3 separate regions of the Homo sapiens genome follow, and regions 2 and 3 are each linked to region 1. The links come from fine-mapping of genetic effects on gene expression. A gene starts in region 1. Each other region holds a variant in brackets. All regions are shown on one strand. Distances are from middle to middle.

Region 1 (2,756 bases):
GCCTGACCAACATGGTGAAACCCCGTCTCTACTAAAAATACAAAAATTAGCCAGGCATGGTGGTGCATGCCTGTAATTCCAGCTACTCAGGAGGCTGAGGCAGGAGAATTGCTTGAACCCAGGAGGCGGAGTTTGAAGTGAGCCGAGATCGTGCCACTGCACTCCGCCTGGCGACAGAACGAGACTCCATGAAAAAAAAAAAAAAAAAAAAAAGAGTAAAGTGAGAGCAAGTTTATTGAGAAAGTAAAGGAATAAAAGAATGGCTATTCTATAGGCAGAGCAGCCCCAAAGGCTGCTGGTTGCCCATTTTTATGGTTATTTCTTGATTATATGCTAAACGAGGAGTGGATTATTCATGAGTTTTCCAGGAAAGTGGTGGGCAATTCTCAGAACTGAGGGTTCCTCCCCTTTTAGACCATATAGGGTAACTTCCTGACTTTGCCATGGCATTTATAAACTGTCATCGTGTTGGTGGGAGTGTCTTTTAGTGTGCTAATGTACTGTAACTAGAGTAATGAGCTGTGAGGATGACCAGAGGTCACTCTCATTGCCATCTTGGTTCTGGTGGTTTTGGGCCAGCTTCTTTACACCATTATCAGCAAGGCCTTTATGACCTGTATCTTGTGTCAACCTCCTGTCTCATCCTGTGACTTAGAATGTCTACCCTCCTGGGAATGCAGCCCAGTAGGTCTCAGCCTTATTTTACCCAGCACCTCTCATTTCCACATATTAACCCCCCCGTTCCACACACTCTCACATTTGGTCCCAGGGGTCTCGAACACCCCTGACGTCCAGCCTCTGCCCGCCAGCTGTTCAGGTCGGGTGGGGAGGCTGCAGTGCAGACCCCTGCCCGGCGTCTCCCTGGAGACTGCCTTCCCTCCCATATATGGTGCGTGCTGCTGGCTGTCCCCCCTGTTCCCTCTACCTGGAAGTCTTTCCTCACCCCTGCCTTCAGAGTCTAACCTCTCCCCAGGCCTCAGCTGAAGGCCTGGCTCTGAGCCAGCCACCTCCTTCACACAACCCACCTTGCTCTGAAGCTGCCTGCTCACAGCCATGCCCCGATGCCACACCCAGGGGTTCTTGGGGAACATTAATGGGATAAAGGAGTAAGAAAATCAAAGGTCACCAAACGGAGCCCTTAAAGGGCAATGCTCTGCGTGTGCCACGGTGCCCAACAGCATCTCGTGCCAGCTGAGCTGCGGTGTGTGGACCCGGGGAATGGACCGGGCTGGACAACCTCTAAGACTTGGCTCCAGCTCAGCCTGTGAAGGAATCACCTCTCTGATCCCCACCTCTGCCCCGGAGTGCTAGACCCAGGGAGGAAGAGACCCCATGGACCAGCCAGAGGCCCCCTGCTCCAGGTGAGTGCTGGCCCCAGGGTGGTCACTGGGAACCGGCTGGTCTCAGCCCTCTGGGGCCTCCACCTCACCCGCTGACTTCCTCAGGCTCTCCACCCTTGTCCACATCCTTCCCCCACCCTCACTCCCAGGCTCAGGAGCCAAGCACTGCCTCCCCACAGAGGGCATTTGTGGAGTCTGTTCCCCACCAGGGGCTCAGATTCAGGCCCTGGTGCAAGGCCCCAAGCTGGGCCCCACCAAAGTGTGGCAGGGGTGGGGGCCCAGGAATACAGCCTGGGCCTGGCAGTGTCTGCTGCCAAAGAGGCCAGTTCTGCTCCGGGATCGGGAAGAGAGGGAAAAGAAGGAAAGCGAGGAAAGAGAGCTCAGGGTTCCTTGGAAATACCTCCCTCGGGGCATGTGACCTGTCCTGGGGTGTGGAAGGACAGAAGCAGAAAGGGAGGTGCAGGGGAGGAAGGTGCCCCCCAGAGCTCAGATCAGCGGCGGCCAGTGCCCACTTCACCCTCAGAGGGCGAAGAACACCAAGACGCCCCGACCCGGGTCCGGGGACGGGGGAGGGAAAAGTCTGGGGTCACTCCCCGTTGCCCCCTCCCGCCACCCCATGGATCCAGACGATGCTTGGCCCGGGACTCCCTGAGGCCCTGCCCGCGGTGGGTTCTCCGGCGCCAGAGTCGGGGGCGGGCGGGGGTCACCCGAGGGCCGCTCCCCGATGACCCGCGCCCGCCCGCCTCCAGCACGGGGCCGCGCCTCGCGGTGGCCCGCGAGCTGCTCCTGGCTGCGCTGGAGGAACTGAGCCAAGAGCAGCTGAAGCGCTTCCGCCACAAGCTGCGCGACGTGGGCCCGGACGGACGCAGCATCCCGTGGGGGCGGCTGGAGCGCGCGGACGCCGTGGACCTCGCGGAGCAGCTGGCCCAGTTCTACGGCCCGGAGCCTGCCCTGGAGGTGGCCCGCAAGACCCTCAAGAGGGCGGACGCGCGCGACGTGGCGGCGCAGCTCCAGGAGCGGCGGCTGCAGCGTGAGTTCTGCGCGGGAGGTCCCTCCTGTCTGGGCAGAGGCTGGGCTGCCCTCCTTCCCGCTTCCCGGAGAAGCCCCGGCGCGGTCCCCGGCCCCCGCGCGTTTTATCCACAAATTCGCGGGCCCCAGGGGTAGGACCCTGCGTGCTCCTCAGGGTGACTCGGACCCCCGTGGCGCCTTCCCCTGTTCCCGCCCTCGGCGGAACCTCACCCCAGTTTCCCTTCCAGGGCTCGGGCTCGGCTCCGGGACGCTGCTCTCCGTGTCCGGTGGGTCTCTCGCTGGGGGGGCACGAGTGTCCCCAACCCCACTTGGAGGGTCCCGGGGAGGACCGGGGTGGGAGGGCCGCCAGGGGCGTGGGCTGTGGTCCCGTAGAGGAAACTGAGGCCT
Region 2 (2,756 bases), 24 kb before region 1:
AGGCATCCATCCACATCCTTGTCACCACTCATCATTCAAATAGCCACCAGCATCTGTGACCTGGTGTGCCCCAGTGCGGACATGAGCCATCCCTGGGACTGGGCATGTAAAGGAAACCACCTTGAGGTTCCCCGTCTGGGAGTGGAGGTGCACGTACACAAAGAATCACAGAGTGAACATTAGGTGGAAGGACAGTTTAATGTGATCTTTCAGTCCTGGGCCTGCAGTGACAGCATGGAGCTCTTGCAGCTCTCCAGGTCGGGTGAGACCCAGCCTCCAGGAACCAGGAAGCTGATGAATGTGAGAGCCCCACGGCCTGCTCCTGTTGGAGGAAAGCACCCACAAGTCTGCTAGGCTGGCAAAGAACAGTTGTCCGGCATCTTCTCCAGCCTTTTCCTCTTTGGTTGCTGGTGTCTGAGCTCCTGGTTTTTTCCACCTCGTCCAGGCCTCGCCTGACCTCATGGCCCCAGACCCCTCTCGGTCTTTCCACCCACCCTCTCCAGACCTCGTTTGGCCCTGGTCCAGATGGCCTGACACCCCAGCTGTTCCTCGTCAGTCACAATTGCTGGGATCTATTGACCACTAGCCTTTATACCCACCTCACTGTCAAGTTCCCAAGGCCCTGTGGTGCACCCTTCAACCTTCCGCAGCCCCTCTCAGCTGCTCAGGCCAAATGTCTTAGTGTGAGCCTCCATTTCCCTCAGACACTCATGTGTACATCGAGCCCGCTGACTCCCCACCCTCCCTAAGTCCAGCCTCAAACCTGTCCTCCATAACCGCTCCTCCACACAGCAGCCCAGACAGTCTTCCAGAACAATCAGGTCTTGTTGCTGCCGCTGCTCAGCATCCTCCAACAGGCTTCACTCACCCCCAAGGCCTGAGTGCTCTGACCACTGCCTGCCTTGCTGGTCCTGCTCCTACCCTCATCTGCTCTCCCTGCACCCCACCAAGGCTCCTGCCTCATCCCAGACATGAGCTGATCACAGCCCAGAGAGACACAATTCTGCATGCTGAAATCCCGAAAAATCAAAATTCTGAAAATATATTTCTGGAAAAAATAATTTTAAAATTATTTAAAAGATATTTATTTACTTTTTTTTCATTTTTTTATTTTTGAGACGGAGTTTCACTCTTGTTGCCCAGGCTGGAGTGCAATGGCACCATCTCCGCTCACTGCAACCTCT[A/G]CCTCCTGGGTTCAAACAATTCTGCCTCAGCCCTCTGAGTAGCTGGGATTACAGGCGCCTGCCACCACACCTGGCTAATTTTGTATTTTTAGTAGAGATGGGGTTTCTCCATGTTGGTCAGGCTGGTCTCAAACTCCTGACCTCAGGTGATCCGCCCGCCTCAGCCTCCCAAAGTGCTGGGGTTACAGGCATGAGCCACCACGCCTGGCCATCTATTTACATTTTTAAAGGGGATTTATTTGAGAAACATAAAAACATGACATATGACAGAACACATCATAGGCCACTTCACACAATAAAATAGACAATAATAATATCCATGTTTCTGCAAGTGTAAACAGTCATACCAATGACAGTTATGCACAGATGAGCTGTATTCGTAAAGAAATGTGTTGAGAGGGGAAATGCATGAACACCTACCGCTCGGGTGGGAATTGCGTGCGCCCAGGTTCATAACTGCAGTCTTCCGAAAAGCCAGGATGAACAACCTACGCCTTCTAACAGGCTCAATCTAGAACCGCAACAGTTCACCACCACATAGCCAGTCACCAAAAAAACCAAGATCTAGAGAAATTTTTCACAAATGCAGATGTACAAAAAGGACATCTCTTCATTTATTGAGGAAATATCCCATTTTTACCTACACACACAGACAACATTGTGGTAATGCACTTCTGTGGAGTCAGTTTTGCAAAAAATGCCTAAAACAAATTAGAACACTGTATAAGTGTTCTAATTTATATCTTCAGTATTGAAATGATGCAAGGATAAAATGAGAGCATAGTGAACTGTAAAAAAATAATGCTGACAATTTATGATGATGAAAAAAGCTAAAAAAACTATACAGAAAATTCAACTTGAAAAAGCCATATATGTCGAATTTTCTGTGTAAGTCATATTACAGTAGATTATGGGCAACTATGCAGAGATATTCTGTAAGAGCTGGCAAACTTCCACGACCCCATTAACTATATTCTGAAGTCTTGCATCACAATGAATAGCTGTTTTTTTTTTCTTTTAGGACATGGCTTTCCTTGGAGAATACATTCAAATTCATTTTCTAAGTGGCGCTACTTTTTAAAAATTTCTATGATTCCTGTGATTGTGATTTTTGGAATTTTAAATATTAGAGATTTTACACTTTAGATATTTTGATCTTTCAGGATTTCAAGACTCAGGAGTGTGTCTTTCAGGATTATAATCCAAACACATCCCAGACACAGGGCACTCCCACCCTTCACTGGCGCCTTTGTCTGGACAGCCTTTCCCTCAGGTTTTTACTTGTTTCTTTAGATCATTTAGGCTTTGCTCAAATGACATCTCCTTAGATATATCTTGTTTACTCTCTGTTTTTGAAGCTGGAATGTAAGTCCCATGAGGGCAGAGACTCCGTTGTGTTCACCACTGAATCTTTGGAGCCTGGAGCAGTGTCTGGTTTAGCAGACTTTTTCAGTCAATGTTACATGGATGGATGGACAGATGGGCATATGGATATATGGATGGATGAATGGATGGGTGGATGGGTGAGTGGATGGACAACAGATGAGTGGATGGATGCATGGATGCATGGAT
Region 3 (2,756 bases), 74 kb before region 1:
CTGATGAGCTTGCCATGGCAGCCAAGGACACTGGTGCCGGAGGAACGACAGGGGCCTGCAAAGGGACATCCGAGGAGGGGGAAGCAAGCTGGGAGCAAGACCAGCCCAGCTAGGTTTCAGGGCAACAGCAAAGCCCCAGAGACATGGAGGCAGATGAGTCAACCTTGCTGGGTGAGAAGTGAGCTTGCACTGCATAGGGCAAGAAGAAGGTGGACCCCACTCCTCCAGGAGGCTGACAGTCTCAGCCAGGTACAATGGAGGGTCCAGGTCACAAGGAAGGGGGCTATGGTGAGCATGGATGGAGAAAGGTAGGCTTGCTGTGTGGAAGGAAGGAGGAGGGGAGGGGAAGGGTGAGCAAAGTGGGGCTGCAGGCATCAGGCTGTGGCTGATCTGTGGTCAGCCTGGAGCTCAGAGGCAGTTCTGGATTGACAGGACATATGGTGTGGCCACACAGGTGGGGGGACAGTGATCCCATAGTCCCCAGGGAGTGACTGGGAGGCAGAAGATTGGAACAGGACAGAGAAGGGCAAAGAAGCACATGGCTCATGCTTTAAAGGTGTTTTTATGCCAAGACAAGGGGGCGAGGACCTCATCTTGAGGTGGGAAGAAGTCGTTGCCCTGCCAGTCCAGTGGTTTGAACATGAATCCAGCCCAGTGGACAGGGAAGGCCCAGGGAGAGGTGGGTAGGGAGGGCATCCTGCAGAGGCTGGGGACAAGGAGGATGGCACAGAATGCCATCACAGCCAGGGGAGTCTGGCAGGGCTTGGCGGAGGCGCCAAAGTTACCAGCAAGCTAGAAGGCAACAACTGATAGCCCTCACAGGAACCTTCTTGTGTAGACCCACAGAAGCTCCCTGGCCCTGCCTGCTTTGCCTGACTCTGAAATGCCAGACAGGCCCATTTCTAGGTCTGTTCTCCTGAAAATACATCTTTGGTGCTGGGTAGATCCTGAATCCTGAGAATACAAGTTTCTGCTCCTGGATACACAGTCACATGACCCAGAAGATCCCAGCCCAGTGGCTAGGCCAAGGCTGCAGTCCACTCCTTCATCCACAGCCCGTTCTCCCCAAGGGTCTCACTTCATCGAAGGCGCAGATAACACAGTAGGGTGGCCTCCACTGGTCTGCCCATGCTCAGCAACCATGGCCAGGAGTAACTGCCATCTCCAGGGTGAGAAGCCTCGGTCGGAGGAGATGACACCCACTTAGGGTTCACAGCCCCTTCCTGTGTCAGTTCCAGGAACCTTGGATCACAGACATGGCCTCACCCAGACAAGGACACGACCGTGCAGCCTTAAGATGTCAGAGTCCCAAGCGCGGGGAGAAGGGCTGCAAGCCACAGGTGGCCACGTCTGGGATTCA[C/A]CAGCTGCTCTGCTCAGACCTGGCTTCTCCAGACACGCTGTGGCCCCAGCTCTGCCTGGCTCTCTAGCACCTGGGGGAGGGGGGAGGGGCTGGGCCTTGGTTTCCCCGAGAGAGTCCCTTTCACACATGGGACCAGCCAACATGAGCTCATCAGGTCACAGGCAGCCGCAGCCTCCTGCCACACAGGAAGAAGATTCCTGACCCACAATTATCATTGCAAAGGAGTATTTTGTAGGTAAGTCCTCTGGAGCCCAAAACACCAGGCAGGGAAGACCCTGGCTGCCCTTGGCACCCACAGACACCAGCTCCCACTGGCTCACGTCCTTGCCCTGGACAAGAAGTAGGAGAGGATGAAGAAGGCCACAATTAGACCCACGGCCATGCCACATAGAAGCTTCCGGTTGTCTTGTCCGGACCTTGCCATTGTGGAAAAGCGCTTCACGCTCCCTGTAAGCAGGCTGGTCATGCTTGTGAAATCCGAGTCCTAAGGGAGGAATCCCAGCAAGATCACACAGAAGTGGTGATTTGACCACCCACCCGCACCAGTGCTGAAGGAGACACTGCAGGCTCTGCAGCAGGTAGTGCTAGGGCAGGGCACTGATACACGCACACCGTGGGCCCTTACCATGCCATCCAGGTACCGGTTCTGATCCTCTGCATCCCTATCGATGTCCAGGGCGAGCTGTTCAGCAGACAGAGAGGGCAGGGTTGGGCCAGAGCAGACACATAATACAGCACTCACCCTCCCCAGACCAGATAAACCCTGCCAACAACTCTGCCAGACACAGTGGGGCTGCAGCAGACAGAAAGGTCCAGGTGTCAGCTGGGGCCTCATGCAGGTGAGCACAGCCACGAATTGGATGAGGATGGAAAACTGCCTGAAACTCCTCTGGGCCCTCTGCCTTCCCTCTGATCCCCATTCCCCAAAGGCACCAGGTGGAGGTAAGAGGACAGACCACCACTGACCGATTTGAGCCTGGTGACTTTGGAGGCCAGGCTGTCAGCCATTCGCTTGTTCTCCCGGTCTAGAATCTCTTCCACAGCGCCCGGGCTCTGAGCTGAGAAAAGAGAGGGGCTGAAGGGTTGCATCCATCGGTGAGCACGGCCCCTGACCCCTCTCACTCCAACCACATCTGGGTGAGTCAGAAATCTAGGGGGCCCTAACCAAGGTTCCAGCAGGTGAATCTTGCACATGAGACAGGCTGCATAAAGGACGATGTGTGTAAGGGCCTGTCATGTGAACACATGTCCTGTGTACACATCAAGGTGGGGATGGGCAAGCACCCACAATGGGTTCGGTCCAACCAGCACCTTCTGAGACTGTGTAGCAAAAACTGGACCCAGCCCTGGGGTGCTAGTATGATGTGACACTTGCATCCAGGGAGGTCACCATCTG

Alleles and levels. Positions count from the first base shown, and alleles are read on the strand shown. Sizes are in standard deviations (SD) of each study's normalised expression. Not every link is listed here.
With allele A in place of G in region 2, the expression in follicular helper T cells of the gene that starts at base 1,170 in region 1 is higher (large effect, 0.86 SD a copy in Schmiedel 2018).

The links. PIP is the estimated chance that this variant, and not a neighbour inherited with it, causes the effect.
Region 2: its variant is fine-mapped to the expression of NLRP6 in follicular helper T cells (Schmiedel 2018, PIP 0.95). The same link has a PIP of 0.9 or more in Th2 cells.
Region 3: its variant is fine-mapped to the expression of NLRP6 in whole blood (INTERVAL, PIP 0.97).

What each region holds. Positions count from the first base shown.
Region 1 is chr11:277,238-279,993 of GRCh38, forward strand. It overlaps NLRP6 (NLR family pyrin domain containing 6), which reads left to right and starts at 1,170. Exons shown (of 8, transcript NM_001276700.2): 1 at 1,170-1,361; 2 at 2,090-2,370; 3 at 2,597-2,635. The coding sequence starts at 1,333. RefSeq lists an enhancer at 2,470-2,756.
Region 2 is chr11:253,237-255,992 of GRCh38, forward strand. It overlaps the pseudogene COX8BP. Among named protein-coding and RNA genes, the nearest start is that of PSMD13, 18 kb to the left of the region's middle. The variant A/G (reference allele first, on the strand shown) is at 1,185.
Region 3 is chr11:203,626-206,381 of GRCh38, forward strand. It overlaps BET1L (Bet1 golgi vesicular membrane trafficking protein like), which reads right to left. Exons shown (of 4, transcript NM_001098787.2): 2 at 2,327-2,418; 3 at 1,986-2,042; 4 at 1-1,844. The coding sequence ends at 1,677. Among named protein-coding and RNA genes, the nearest start is that of BET1L, 2.4 kb to the right of the region's middle. RefSeq lists an enhancer at 2,190-2,689. The variant C/A (reference allele first, on the strand shown) is at 1,361.